4 linked regions of the Homo sapiens genome follow. The protein of the gene in region 1 purifies or fractionates together with the protein of each later gene. This does not show direct contact. Each region holds a gene or a part of one and is shown in the gene's direction. Other genes may lie near its edges.

The links.
Region 2: the proteins of PKN2 (region 1) and RPE fractionate together in Homo sapiens (co-fractionation; one large-scale study listed by BioGRID). This does not show direct contact.
Region 3: the proteins of PKN2 (region 1) and RABL3 purify together in Homo sapiens (affinity purification with mass spectrometry; one large-scale study listed by BioGRID and IntAct). This does not show direct contact.
Region 4: the proteins of PKN2 (region 1) and ABLIM2 purify together in Homo sapiens (co-immunoprecipitation; one large-scale study listed by IntAct). This does not show direct contact.

Annotation. Positions count from the first base shown.
Region 1 is NC_000001.11:88,774,542-88,778,439, forward strand, and holds part of PKN2 (serine/threonine-protein kinase N2), read left to right. Parts: intron 1-3,898. UniProt on the Homo sapiens protein: PKC-related serine/threonine-protein kinase and Rho/Rac effector protein that participates in specific signal transduction responses in the cell.
Region 2 is NC_000002.12:210,009,138-210,012,637, forward strand, and holds part of RPE (ribulose-phosphate 3-epimerase), read left to right. Parts: intron 1-519; coding exon 520-599; intron 600-3,500. UniProt on the Homo sapiens protein: Catalyzes the reversible epimerization of D-ribulose 5-phosphate to D-xylulose 5-phosphate.
Region 3 is NC_000003.12:120,701,017-120,704,516, reverse strand, and holds part of RABL3 (rab-like protein 3), read left to right. Parts: intron 1-3,500. UniProt on the Homo sapiens protein: Required for KRAS signaling regulation and modulation of cell proliferation. Regulator of KRAS prenylation, and probably prenylation of other small GTPases. Required for lymphocyte development and function. Not required for myeloid cell development.
Region 4 is NC_000004.12:7,966,814-7,970,313, reverse strand, and holds part of ABLIM2 (actin-binding LIM protein 2), read left to right. Parts: exon of another isoform or gene 1-555; intron 556-3,210; coding exon 3,211-3,324; 3' UTR 3,325-3,500. UniProt on the Homo sapiens protein: May act as scaffold protein. May stimulate ABRA activity and ABRA-dependent SRF transcriptional activity.

The DNA of each region.
Region 1 (3,898 bases):
GAGGCTGTCTTCCAGAAACCAGGGACAAAAACCAGCCAAATTATATACAACAAAAGGGCTTATTTCTGTCATTTTGCGGGTTTTTTTTTTTATGCAAGTGTTTATCTTTTTTTCTCTGAGTTCTAGTACTACCTTCTTTTGGTTTTGATTGAATTTTTCTACTCTGTTTTTATTTACTTATTTTTGAGACAGGATCTCTCTTTGTTGCCCAGGCTGGAGTACAGTGGTATGATCATAGCTCACTGTAACCTCAAACATCTGGGCTCAAGCAATCCTCCTGCCTCAACCTCCTGAGTAGCTAGGAGTACGGGAACGTGCCACCACACCTAGCTAATTTTTAGTTTTTTGCTAGCAATGGCGTCTCACTGTGTTGCTCAGGCTTGTCTCAAACTCCCGGCCTCAAGTCATCTTCCCACCTCAGACTTCCAAAGTGTTGGGATTATAGGCGTGAGCCACTATGCCCAGCCTCTATTCTTACTTTTCTTATTCCCTTCTTGCTCCCTTTTATGAGATAGATAGATATATATATTCTCCCACCTCAGCCTCCCTAGTAGCTGGGAGTACAGGTGCACACCACCACGCTCAGCTTATTTTATTTTTTTTGTAGAGATGGGGTTTCTCTGTGTTGCCCAGGCTGGTCTTCAACTCCTGGGCTCGAGCAATCTGTCCACCTTGGCCTCCCAAAGTGCTAGGATTACAGGCATGAGCTACTTATGCCTGGTCTTTCACTAAATCTTGAACTCCTCGCAACCACTCACCTCACTTCCTCCGTAGTTTTGCCTTTTCCACAATGGTCATACAGTTGGAATCTTAACAGTATGTAGCCTTTTCACATTGGTTTCTTTCACTTAGTAATATGCATTTAAGTTTCCTCTATGTCTTTCCATGCTTTGATAGCTCATTTTTGGTTTTGTGCTGAATAATACTCTATTGTGTGGATGTACCATAATTTATTTATTCATTCATTTACCGAAGGACTTCTTGGTTGCTTCCAGGTTTTGGCAGTTATGTATCAAGCTGTTATAAACATCCATGTGCGGGTTTATTATTTTCTTAGTGATTACCCCAATGATTATAACTAATGTCCTAAATTTATTATAATCTTATCTTTAGTAGCCTACAAAAAACTCTTTGACTGTGCCCTTGTTATATTGTCACAAACTCTCTTTATGCACCATATACCCATTAACATAGGCTATAAATATTGTTTTATGCATTAGTCTTTTAAATCATAAAGGAAACAAAAAGAAGAGTTACTTAAAATACAGAAATATTGGCTTCTGGCCAGGCGCAGTGGCTCACGCCTGTAATCTCAGCACTTTGGGAGGCCGAGGCGGGTGGATCACGAGGTCAGAAGATCGAGACCATCCTGGCTAACATGGTGAAACCTCATCTCTACTAAAAATACAAAAAAAAATTAGCCGGGCGTGGTGGCAGGCCCCTGTAGTCCCAGCTACTCAGGAGGCTGAGGCAGGAGAATGGCGTGAACCTGGGAGGCGGAGCTGGCAGCGAGCCGAGATCGTGCCACTGCACTCCAGCCTGGGTGACAGAGCGAGACTCCGTCTCAAAAAAAAAAAAAAAATACTGGCTTCTATATTTACTTATGTAGTTAATTTTACCTGCGTTTGTCTTCCTTTTTTCCTTTCTCTCTCCCTCCCTCCCCCTCCCCCTACCCCCTCCCCCTTGCCCTCCCTGACACTGCCCCCACCCCGCCCCACCCGTCACTTCTCCCATCCTTCATTTCAATCTAAAAGGCTTCTTTAGCATTTCTTATGGGCGGGTCTCCTAGTGTCTACCTCCCTTAGCTTTTGTTATCTAGGAATCTCTTTCTTTTCTTTTTTTGAATGATAGTTTGGTATATATATAGAATTCTTGGCTGGCAATTTTGTTTTTTTCCAGCACTTAAAAAAATGTCCAACTAGGCACAGTGGCTCACACCTATAATCCCAGCACTTAAGGAGGCCGAGACGGGTGGATCACTTGAGGTCAGGAGTTTGAGACCAGCCTGGCCAGCATGGTGAAACCCCATCTATACTAAGAATACAGAAATTAGCCAGGCATGATGGCGCATGCCTGTAATCCCAGTAACTCAGGAGGCTGGGGCAGGAGAATCGTTTGAACGCGGGAGGCGGAGGTTGCAGTGAGCCAAGATCATGCCACTGCACTCCAGCCTGGGTGACAGAGTAAGACTCTGTCTTAAGAAAAAAAAAAAAAGTCCTCCTGCTTCCTCCAGGCCTTTATGTTTTGTGATGAGAAATCCACTGTTAATGTTACTGAGGATCCCTTGTAAGTGATGAATTATTTTTGTCTTGTTGCTTTCAAGCTTTTCTTTGTTTTTTCACAGTTTAATTATAATGTGTCTTAGAGTGGATCTTTTTGAATTTATTCTACTTAGATTCTTTGAGCTTGATGTGTAGGTTCTTGTCTTTCATCAGATTTGGGAAGTTTCCAATCATTTCTTCAAATGTTCTTTCTTCTCCCTCTGAGACTTTGATTTTTGCCTACATTGGTGTGCTTTATGGTATTTCTCTTAGACTCTGATTTTCTTCATTATTTTTTCTTTCTGCTCTTAAGACTAGACAAGTGCAATTGATCTACCTTCAAATTGGCTCACTTTTTCTTCTGCCTGCTCAAATCTTGTATTGAACCTCTCTAGCAAATTTTTTCATTTTTGTTATACTTTTCAATTCCAGAATTTCTGTTTGGTTCTTTTTTATAATTTTTAAATCCATATTGATGTTCTCTATTTGTAGACACATCACTTTTCTTGTTTCCCCTAGATATTTGTCCATGGTTTCTTTTAGATTTTTGAGCATCTTAATTTAGTAAGTCCAACATGTCTTGACTTCCCCAGGGTCAGTTTCTGTTAATTTCTTTTTTCTGTGAACTGACCGTATTCTGTTACTGTGCTTGCTTCATAATTCAAGTACTTCATTTCCTTAGTATACTTACTCACAAATCAGATTTTACTCTTTCCAAAGATTTCATTTTTCTGCTATATGTTGAATGTAGTTGTTTGCCTAGTAACTTTTATAATCTATTTTGTAGAGACTATTCTTTCTCATGTATTACCCCTGAGGTGTCTATTTCATTAATATATTGTACACCAAAATAAAATTCTAAGCCACCCAACTAAATGAATGGACCCCCTCCTCTCAGCCAATGGCATTCTAAAGTAAACCTGAAACACTAGTTCAGGTCGTGCTGGGAATGGGTGGTTTGGACATGCCTCATTATGCCTTCCTCCCTTTGGAATTCAGGTACTGCAGACCAGCATTAACATCAAAACAGAGACCTTAAGACTGACTGAACAGACTCTTTCAGTAGATAAGAAACATTTACAGTCTCTTCTTTCTGAAGCCTGCTATCTGGAGGTTTCATCTACAAAATGAGAACCTGGGTCTCCACAACCCCTTATCTTAACAGCACTCTTACAATACTCCCTTGTATTGATTCCAGGTCTTTAGATAAACTCTTTCTACCAGTTGCCAATCAGAAGATCTCTGAATCCACCCGTGACCTGAAAATCCCTACTTCGAGTTGTCCATCTTTTCTGGACCCAACTAATGTACCTTTTACATGTATTGATAGATGGCTTATGTCTCCCTAAAATGTACAAAACCAAGCTGTAACCCAACCACCTTGGGCACGTGTTGTCAGGACCTCCTGAGGCTGTGTCACGTATATCCTTAATCTTGGCAAAATAAACTTCTAAATTGAGACCTGTCTCAGATACTTTTTGGTTTACTATATAGTCATCTGGTGTTTCAACAGACATTTCCTTTAATTCCTGAAGAAGAAAAGATTGCCTAGTCTTTGCAGCTGGGCCCTGTGCTTGAGCACTCACCCAGACACTTTACAACTCTGCATTTGCTTTGTGCAGAGCTTGAGAGTCAAC
Region 2 (3,500 bases), on another chromosome or scaffold:
GCTTGGCATGTAGTAAACCCTCGGTGAAAGGTGGTCGTTACTAATAAACACATCATGTTTCTTTATTAGTCATCTTTAAGAAAGTTTAAAGAAACTGTCATTTAGTGCCTTGTGATAGAAGTGATTAGAAGTAGCCACAGGCCTCCTGAGATAGACTAGGATTCAGGAGATCAATATTAGAGTCCAGAACTTACTAACTAGTGTGTGACTTGGGCAAGTCATAAAGCCTGAGGGTTTCTGATTTTATCATCTCTCCATTTCTACTTGTCATGGGTCGTGAATTACGGAGTCAAATCATTATGAAAATATATGTGACGTGATTTGTTGAAATGTCAAGGAGACATTGCCTAGTAAAACCAAAATGACCCATTATTTTTAGTATTATTTAATACTGATGATTAAGTATTAAATTGAAAAACATTGCAGACAATCCCCTCAACCTGTGTCAGAATTCATATTGAGAGAGATACAGAAACTGAATTGAAAACATTTTCAGAGTAGATTTTGTTTGTCTTGTAGGCATTTTGTTCCCAACATCACCTTTGGTCACCCTGTGGTAGAAAGCCTTCGAAAGCAGCTAGGCCAGGACCCTTTCTTTGGTAAGTGGGTGTTACGCCATCTGAAGCTGGATGTGTTGCTCAAGTAAAGGAAAACTGGATGGTTGATTTTAACTTCCAAGTTCATCTGGCACCCTTTCCCCAACTTTCCTATCCTGGGTCTTCATTGGCCTGACTCCAGTAACAAGCCAAACTTCTTCCTGCCTCTGGGCCTTGGCTAATCTGCATGGAAAGGTAGTAGCTTGGCTGGCTGCCTCATCTTTGGGCCTCAAGTCATTTGTCATTTCCTCAGAGAGGCCTTTTTGAGCGTCCTCTCCCAAATTAACCTTTATCCAATTATCTTATCACCTGTTGATTTTCCTCTGAGAACTTCCTTTGATCTGCGATTACTTTTATTAGACTATAAACTCTCTGAGGGCGGGGATTGAATCCAGTTTGTTTACTGTGGTTTTCCTAAAGCTAAGCATAGACATGATCAGGGCTCAGTGTAATTGTTAAGTGAATTTATGAATCAGTTGATTTATGGTCCAGAAGCCATTTATTTTGTGCAAATTGGAGCTTTCTACAAGTGGTGCCTAAATATTCACTCCAATGTCCTAGTACAATGTAAATTAAGATTTTTAAGATTACTTAGTGGCCTACAAGTGATTTATGTTAAGTTAGCAATGTCTCACCTGCCAGATCTCTTAAACATGAGAAATTTTACACATTTTTATAAATAGTGTTATTTATTTTTTTCTTTTTTTTAAAATAGAGACTGAGTTTCGCCATGTTTCCCGGGCTAGTCTCAAACTCCTGGGCTCAAGCAATCCACCTGCCTTGGCCTCCCAAAGTGCTAGGATTACAGGCTTGAGCCACCAGCCTAGCCATAAATAGTTTTTTTAACGTAGCTTACAATTTAGTAGAACTTAGATTCTTTTTAATCAGCATATTGCTGACCAGTTTTATGAAGGACTCTGTGCTGTTCACTATGGTAGTCATAAGCCACATGTAGCTATTAAAATTAAATAAACTTAAGTTCATGACCAGAATGGCCAACATGGTGAAACCCTGTCTCTACTAAAAATTCAAAAATTAATCAGGCGTGGTGGCAAACACCTATAATCCCAGCTACTCAGGAGGCTGAGGCATGAGAATCACTTGAACCTGGGAGGTGGAGATTGTAGTGAGCTGAGGTCATTCCACTGCACTCCAGCCTGAGTGACAGTGTGACACTCCATGTCAAAAAAAAAAAATTTTTTTTAAATTAAATAACATAAACTTAAAAATTCGGTTTCTTATTCACGTTAATCACATTGCAAGTCTTCAGTAGTCACATATTGTACAGTGCAGCTATGGGACATTTCCAATATCACAGAAAATTCTGTTGAATATAGTCTCCAGCCTCTGTGTAGGATCTATCTACTTTGAGTTCACCAAAGAAAATGTACATTATTACCTCATTTATGTGGCATGAGGAAACAATGTTCCACCAATATATTCACCATTTTGAAATTTCCATATAATGGGATATAGTCCTCTGATTATCTAAACTTTCTTTTAAGCCATGATTAGCTTATATAGCAGATACCGTGACTTTTCCTATGAATTACGGTTGTTCTCATGACCATGAGAGGTAGATGAAATAAATAGCATTGTTTTCTCCCACTGTACAACCAATGGCCAGAATCCTCGCTTCTGGCTTGCTTGTGTGAATTTTTTTAATGCTTGCTTTTTTTCCCCTTTTCGCTCCCTTTTATTTGGGCTCCCATTGTCACACCATACTATTGTCTATATCCCTTCCTGTCAGTGCCTTTCCTTTTAGCAATCCTGTGTTGCTGCCACCACACACAATCTGCTTTTTCTTCTTGTTTTTAATTTGTTGATAAACTTGCTAATTAATCTTTCTAGAATTTGGTCTAAAAGATAAATGAACTCCATTCACTTTAATGTTTGGGTTTTGTGACCCTTGTTTTTTGGTTTTTCGCTTTTTGTTGTTGTTGTTGTTGTTGCTTTAAGAGACAGACTCCGTCTATTACCCAGGCAAGAGTACAGTGGTACAGTCATAGCTCACTGCATCCTTGAACTCCTGGGCTCAAGCAATCCTCCCGCCACAGCTATAGCTAAGACTACAGGTGTGTGCCACCACAACCGGCTATTTTTTTTTTTTTTTTTTTTTTTTACTTTTTGTAGAGATGGGATCTCCCTGTATTGCCCAGGCTAATCTTGAATGCTTGGGCTCAAGCCATCCTCCTGCCTTGGCTTCCCAAAGTGTTGTGATAGTAGGTGTAAGTCACTGAGCCCGACTACCTTTGTTTTTTATATTGAGAAACATTTGTTTAATTCTTGGATTTTGGTTGTTGGATAATTGATACATGAATGTATTCTAGGACCTAGATTACATGTTGTGTTGTATATGTAACGCTAACATTCTTAACTGTTCAGTTTTCATATTGAGTAGAAATAAATGTCTAAGAAATACAGTGATGGGAAAAGTCTGTTCCTGTTATTGTCTAAATCAGTGATCCTCAAGTATGTTGTATAAGGACCCACACAAATCCTTAAGACCCTTTCGGGTCATCCATGAGAGTATATCAAAACTATTTTCATAATCCTAAGAAATTATTTGCCATTATTTCTACTGATGGTACAAAAACATTGATGAGTTAGTTTGCTGGTGCCTTAACCAACTCAAGGCAGGGACTGTATCAGGAGTTATTCTTCATCATCATGCATTTGCAATAAATATCCTTGATGAAGCAGTAGAAATTAATAAATCTTGGTCCCTGAATACATGCCTTTTTAATATTTTGTGTGGCAAAGTAGGAAGTGCATATAAAGTGCTTGTGCTGCATTGCTGCATACTGGAACATAATGGTTTTCTCAAGGAAAACCACTTGCACCATAGAGGTGTGATCTGAACTAGCTGCTTTCCTCCAGAACACTATGTTTGTTTGAAAGAAC
Region 3 (3,500 bases), on another chromosome or scaffold:
ATGTCTTACTCCAATCTTAGGGGGAAAGCATTCATTTCACTATTAAGTATGATGTCAGCTTTAGGTTTTTTTTGTTGACATCATTTATCAGGTTGAGAACATTTCTTTCTATCCCTAATTTGCTGATAGTTTTGTTAATATCATGAACAGATACTGAATTCTGTCAAAAGCCTTTTCTGCATCAATTGATATGGACATGTGGCTGCTTCTTTAGGCTGTCAGTATGGTGGATTACGTTCACTGATTTTCAATACTGGTGGATTACATTCACTGATTTTCAAATATTGAACCAGCCTTCCATTCCTTGGTCATGGTGTATTATTCATTTTATGTGTTGCTGGATTTGATTTGCTAATATTTTGTTGAGGATTTTTATCCATGTTCATGACAGGCATTGGTGTGTAGTTTTCTGTTCTCATAATGTCTTTGACTGGTTTTGGTGTGAGGATAATGTTGGCCTCATAGAATTAATTGGAAGTATTCCTTCCTCTTCTATTTTTTGGAAGAAATTGAGTATATTTGGTGTTATTTCTTCTTTGAAGGTTTGGTAGAATTTACCAAGAGACCATCTGGGCCTGGAGGTTTCTTATTTGAAAGGTTTTTAACCACAAAGTCAACTTCTTTAGTAATTAGGATTGTTCAAGTTATTTATTTCATCTTGGATGAGTTTTTGTAATTTGTGATTTTCAAGGAATTCCATCTATTTCATTAAATTTTTTAATGTATATCAATAGAGTTGTTTATAGTATTTGTTTATTGTCCTTTTGATAGTTGCACAGTTTGTAGTGATATGACCTTTTTCATTCTGATTTTGGTATTTTATGTCTTCTCTTTTTCTTGTCAGACTTGTAGAGGTTTATCAATTGTATTGATTTTTTTCCAAAGAAGCAACTTTTGGTTTCATTGATTTTTCTCTATTGTTTTTCCATATACAGTTTAATTGATTTCTACTCTTATTTCTTTCCTTCTGCTTGCTTTTGGTTTATTTTGTTCTCTATAGCTTCTTAGATTACTTACTGGATACCTTGCATTTTTGCCAATACAAGTATTTTAATGCTATAAATTTCCCTCTAAACACTGCTTTAGCTGCATCCTGCAAATGTTTAAATGTATTACTTTTATTTTCATTTAGTTCAAAATATTTTCTAATACTCCTTGAGATTTTCCCATAGGCTGTTTAGAAATGTGTTGTTTAGTTTCCATGTATTTAGAGGCTTTCCAGTTATTTTTTGCTATTGACTTCTAGCTTAATTTTATTATGATCCAAGAACATACTTTATATGATTTCACTTATTTTATATTTGTGCAACACCCGGTATGTGACCTGGGTGTTGTTGTCTCTGTTGTTTCAGTTTTCAGTGTCTTTGGTACACTAAGTAGGATCAAATCCATGCATGCACAGCTTTGGCAATGAGCTCAAGCATTCACGAACTACTTCATGGGGTTGCTTTCTCACACTTCACCCTGTCTACAGTCTCTGCCATACTTTGTGATTTGCTGGGGCTCCCTTTTTCGGTCCCCAGGCCAAATTTTCTCATGCACTTGCACAACTGCACCTATGTCCAGGGCCAAGTGGTAGAAGGACAAAGAATAAAAGCAATGGGAGTTTGCCCCACTGTCTTGAGATACAGTTCCATCAGTCAGAAAAATTTCCCTTCTGGGCCCGGCGCGGTGGCTCACGCCTGTAATCTCAGCACTTTGGGAGGCCAAGGCGGGCGGATCATGAGGTCAGGAGATCGAGACCATCCTGGCTAACATGGTGAAACCCTGTCTCTACTAAAAATACAAAAGATTAGCCAGGCGTTGTGGCGGGCGCCTGTAGTCCCAGCTACTTGGGAGGCTGAGGCAGGAGAATGGCATGAACCTGGGAGACGGAGCTTGCAGTGAGCCGAGATCACGCCACTGCACCCCAGCTTGGGCAACAGAGTGAGACTCCGTCTCAAAAAAAAAAAAAAAGAAAAATTTCCCTTCCTCTGTATTTGTAAGCAGGCGTTCCCAACCCCTGGTCCATGGCCTGTTAGGAACCAGGCCACACAGTGGGAGGTGAGTGGCAGGTGAGTGAGCATTACCATCTGAGCTCCACCTCCTGTCAGATTAGCAGAGGCATTAGATTCTCATAGGAGCGTGAATCCTATTGTGAACTGTGCATGTGAGGGATCTAGGTTGCAGGCTTCTTATGATAATCTAACTAATGCCTGATGATCTGAGGTGGAACAGCTTCATCCTGAAACCATCCCCCAAACACCTGTCCATGGAAAAATTGTCTGCCATGAAACTAGTCTCTGGTACCAAAAAGGTTGGGGACTGTTGTTTTTGAGCATTCTGCTTGTGTTATAGCCTTTGCCACAACTGTCATGAAATTGCTCAGAAGCTGGCTTACAACAGAAGGAAAAATATTGTATTTCTACACTATCTCCAAGTATTCGTGTGTCCCCTTTCTTGTTTCATGAGCCAGAACTATAGGCCTTCTTCTGGAGTATTCTGTTCACACTTTTGGGTTTTAAGCTGAGTTGCATTCAGACAAGGGGATATGGAAGGAAACTGCTAATTCAATGGTTCTTCACATTGCAGTCTTCCTTAATATGCTCACTATTAATTTTTCAGAGTCCTCAAATAGCCACTTCATGTATCCTGTCCAGGTTTTATAGTTGCATTCACTGGGAAAGACAGGATAGAGTTTGCTTATTCTGTCTTACCTAGAACAGAACCCCATTTTCTATCTTTTGATTGAAGCAAGTCTTTCAAAGGCTTTGTTTTCTGTGTGGAAGTCTAATTGTTATGTGAAACCTAAATATAGTATAAGTTTGAGTATATATATGTAGATTCCAGCAAGACCTAATAAAGAATAAGCACAACTAATTTAAAACCTATATTTCAAAGCCTCATTGATATTTATTTCCTATCTCAATTCCTTTCATCACTGATGTCTTCATTAACCTAGCTTGTTCTCTATTTTCTACTAAAATTTCTACTTAAGAAACTTATCCTTAAATTTAGGGTTAGGAGACAGCATATTCATATCAGAAAGAAATCTGCATTTTTGTCAGGGAATTCAGTAAAAGTTCTATACCCATTTGCATTTTGACACTACAGTTTCATTTTGATTCTATAGATAAACCTGCAAATGTATAAAACAACCTTAATACATTGGTGTGCTTTGTTGGTGCATTATTGTATAGCATCAAAAAATTTGGAAACAACCCTAGTGTCCGAGCAACGAAAGATTCATTGAATAAATAATGGCATATCCACATACTGGAGTAGTATTCAATGTTTAAAAAAGAATCAGGAAGATCTCTATGAACTAAAATAGAAAGATCTACAGAGGGTACATTATTAGGTTTAACAAATCAAAATGCAGAGAATATATATCGTATACCTCCTATTGTATAAGAAAGAAAAGAAATAATATGTATTTATATTTGGATAAAGAATCAGTGAAAAATAAGAAACTAATAAAAATGGTAACCTATAGGGGGCCAGGGGAGATGGGTGGATGG
Region 4 (3,500 bases), on another chromosome or scaffold:
CCTCCCCCAGCAGGAAGCAGGAATGTGGCCACAGGGAGGCCTGCCCCAGGCACCAGCACTGAACTCTCCTCGCCCTTCCGGTGTCAGCCTCCCCTCCTTTACATATTTACTTACGTGTCAGTTCACCACCCCAGCCTACCCCTGCCAGGGGCCTTGTGTCTCTGACTTTCCATGTCTGGAACAAGGTCTGGTATCACCAGGTCTTGGATAAAGCTAGAAATGATTTTCCTTTTTCTTTCCTTTGATCTCATCCGTCTTGATTGTTCCACCATAATTCAGAAGATGGTGATTTTGTACCTGTAAGTGCAGGGCTGCTATCTTAAATGACACATTGAGTGTCAAATGTCTTAAGAGACGCGGTCTGAAATGACAATTCTAAGTTTCTGTGGACTGGCTGATGGATTTCTCAGCACCAAGAAACCCTGATCTCAGCACCACGCAAGTGGTTCATTTCTGGCAAGCACCAGGATTCTTTTCCTCTTTGCAAACTCGAGATAGCAGCAGGCGGCTGAGGGCCTCTTCCTGGCAGACTTGCTGGATAGGCTGTGTGTGTGTGTGTGTGTGTGTGTGTGTGTGTGTGTGTCAGAGAGAGAGAGAAAGAGAGACTGACTCTGAGCCCAGATTCAACTAAAACATGGCATTCTGGGGGATTTCCTGAGTCCCTCCTCCAGATCACCCCAACTACTGGGGCTGCAAAATCCAGGGCATACCACACAGATTTGGTGATTCTTGTGAAATGCGTGAGTGGCAATGGTTTACACTTTTCATAGTTGACCAGATGTCTCCACTTCCATTTTCTCTTTTGCTAATCACAGTGATTCTAATATAGCACTTGAGTTTTTTGTTTGTTTGTTTGTTTGAGACAGGGTCTCACTGTGTCACCCAGGTTTGAAGTGCAGTGGTGTGATCACAGCTCACTGCAGCTTCAACCCCCTGGCTTCAAGAGATCCTCCCACCTCAGCCTCCTCAGTAACTGGGACTACAGGTACACGCCAGCGCACCCAGCTAATTTTTGTAATTTTTGTAGAGATGGAGTCTCACCATGTTGCCCAGGTTGATCTCAAACTCCTGAGCTCAAGTGATCTGCCCGCCTTGGCCTCCCAAAGTGCTGGGATTACAGGTGTGAGCCACCACACCCATCCAAATTGACCATTTTAACTATTTTATTTTATTTATTTTTTTGAGATGGAGTCTTACTCTGTCACCCAGGCTGGAATGCAATGGTGTGATCTCAGCTCACTGCAACCTCCACCTCCTGGGTTCAAGCGATTCTCCTGCCTCAGCCTCTCGAGTAGCTGGGATTACAGGCATGTGCCACCATGCCTGGCTAATTTTTGTATTTTTAGTAGAGATGGGGTTTGCCATGGCTGGTCTTGAACTCCTGACCTAAGGTGATCCACACGCCTCAACCTCCCAAAGTGCTGGGATTACAGGCGTGAGCTGCCACCCCCGGCCCATTTTAACCATTTTAAAGTGTACCATTCAGTACAGTTCAGTGTATTCACAACATTGTGCCACCAACCCCACTCTCCAGCTCCGGAACATTCCAACTCCGGAACATTCCAGCTCCGGAACATTTTCTTCACCACAAGAGGAAACCCCATATCCGTTAAACAGTCCCTCCCCATTCCTCTCTCCCCCAGTCCCTGGCGACCACGAATCCATGCTCTGTCTCTATGGACTTGCCTGTTCCGGACACTTCAGAGAAGTGGAATCATATACTATGTGGTCTTTGGTGTCTGGCTTCCTTCATGGAGCCAGTGTGTTTGGGGCTCATCCATGCTGTGGCATGTGTCGGAACTTCACGACCTTTTAAGGCTGAAGGCTATTCCGTCACATGGACATGTCACATTCTGTGTATCTATTCGTCCATTGATGGACACCTGGTTTGTTTCCACATTGCAGTGATTTAGAGTAATGCTGCTAGGAACATGGGCGACCATCATCTCTCTGAGTCCCTGTTTTCCATTCCTCCGGGTGTCTGTCCAAGAGTGGATGGCTGGGGCATATGATAACTGTGTGGAGTGTGTCGCAGAACTACAGAAAACTCCCCACAGAGCTGCACTGAAGCCACGCTTTTCAGAAGGCAGCAGATGGTGATTCAGGGCAGAGCCTGGCCTCTTCCTGTCACTGGCCTTCTCCAGCCTCTTTCCAGTTCCTCCTCTCAGCCCCGCCCAGGCGAGGCGAGGGGAGCAAAGGGAAGCATCCCCGTGGATGGAAAGTCCCAGGCTCCCTAGAAAAGCTCCTTAGGGGAGGGGACGCCTGAGCCAGCTCTGAGGGATGCGGGGTTTCTCAGAGCCTGCTGAGGAAGACAGGCAGGAGAGTAGGGGTTGCAGGCCCTGCAAGGCAGAGCTAGAAGGCAGGTGGCTGCTTGGCAAGGAGCTCCACAGAGCTTGCGGTGGCTGAGGTCATACTAACACATGCAGCCAGCACCCACGGGTACAGTCCACAGCCAGTGCTGACCTATGTCCACGCCTTCCTCCCCACAGCTCCAGGGTGTGGGCTCTAGGGGACCCCATTACACAGATGAGCAGACTGAGGCTCCAGGGTCTAACTCACTCCTATGGCATCCCAGAAGCACTGGTATCCACGCCCTGACCACCAAGCTGTGTGCCTTTCCACGGTGACCACAGACAAGAAGCTGAGCTCAGAGAGGCACAACAGCTCTCTCACGCTTACACACCAGGGGCTTCCGGTGGAGGGAGGATTTGCGCCTGGGCCTGGGCCGTGCCTGGCATTCTTGCTCACTGTCCGCGCCCCACCCTCCTGGGCTACGAAGTCCCGGGGGTAAACCTTCCACCTCCTGCTCTCGGATGGCAGCTGTGACCACTCACTGAAGTAACAAATATGACCACTGAAGGAAATCTATAAAAGCTCAGACATTTGCACGCAGGTGGGGGTCCTGCTCTGGGACATGTTAATGAACTTGGTCCACAGCAGCAGATACCTTTGTAGGAGTCAAGAGCAGAAGATTCTGGCTCCAGCTCCACCACTGGGTGCTGTGTGTCCCTGGCAGGGTCGCTGTCCTCTGAGCTCAGTTCTTTCACTGCAGAGAGGGTGTCAGGAACCGCCAGGAGGCCGAGCACGCTGAGGGCCACCCCATCCTCAATGCAATCCTGCCCCTGGATTGCTTGGCGGCAGCAAACTGCCCAATGGTGTCCCTTGCTGCGTGGCTAACTGGTCCCTTCTGTTTTGCCTTTTTGTTTGAAGAGACACTTGTCGCCCGAGGAGTTCCAGGAAGTGTTTGGGATGAGCATCGAGGAGTTTGACCGCCTGGCCCTCTGGAAGAGGAATGACCTTAAGAAGAAAGCCCTTTTGTTCTGACGGCTGCCAGCCTGCCCCACTGGTGTGTGCCGGGCGCCGAGGCCAGGGGCCCCTGGCGAGAACCGCACACACCCCTCCCACACACCTTGCTCTGGCTTCTCTGTGTCCATGGGGTGGGCGGGAGGGGGTCCCCCAGCAGGTGCGGCCCCTGCACCTGCCGGCGACACTCCTGCCGG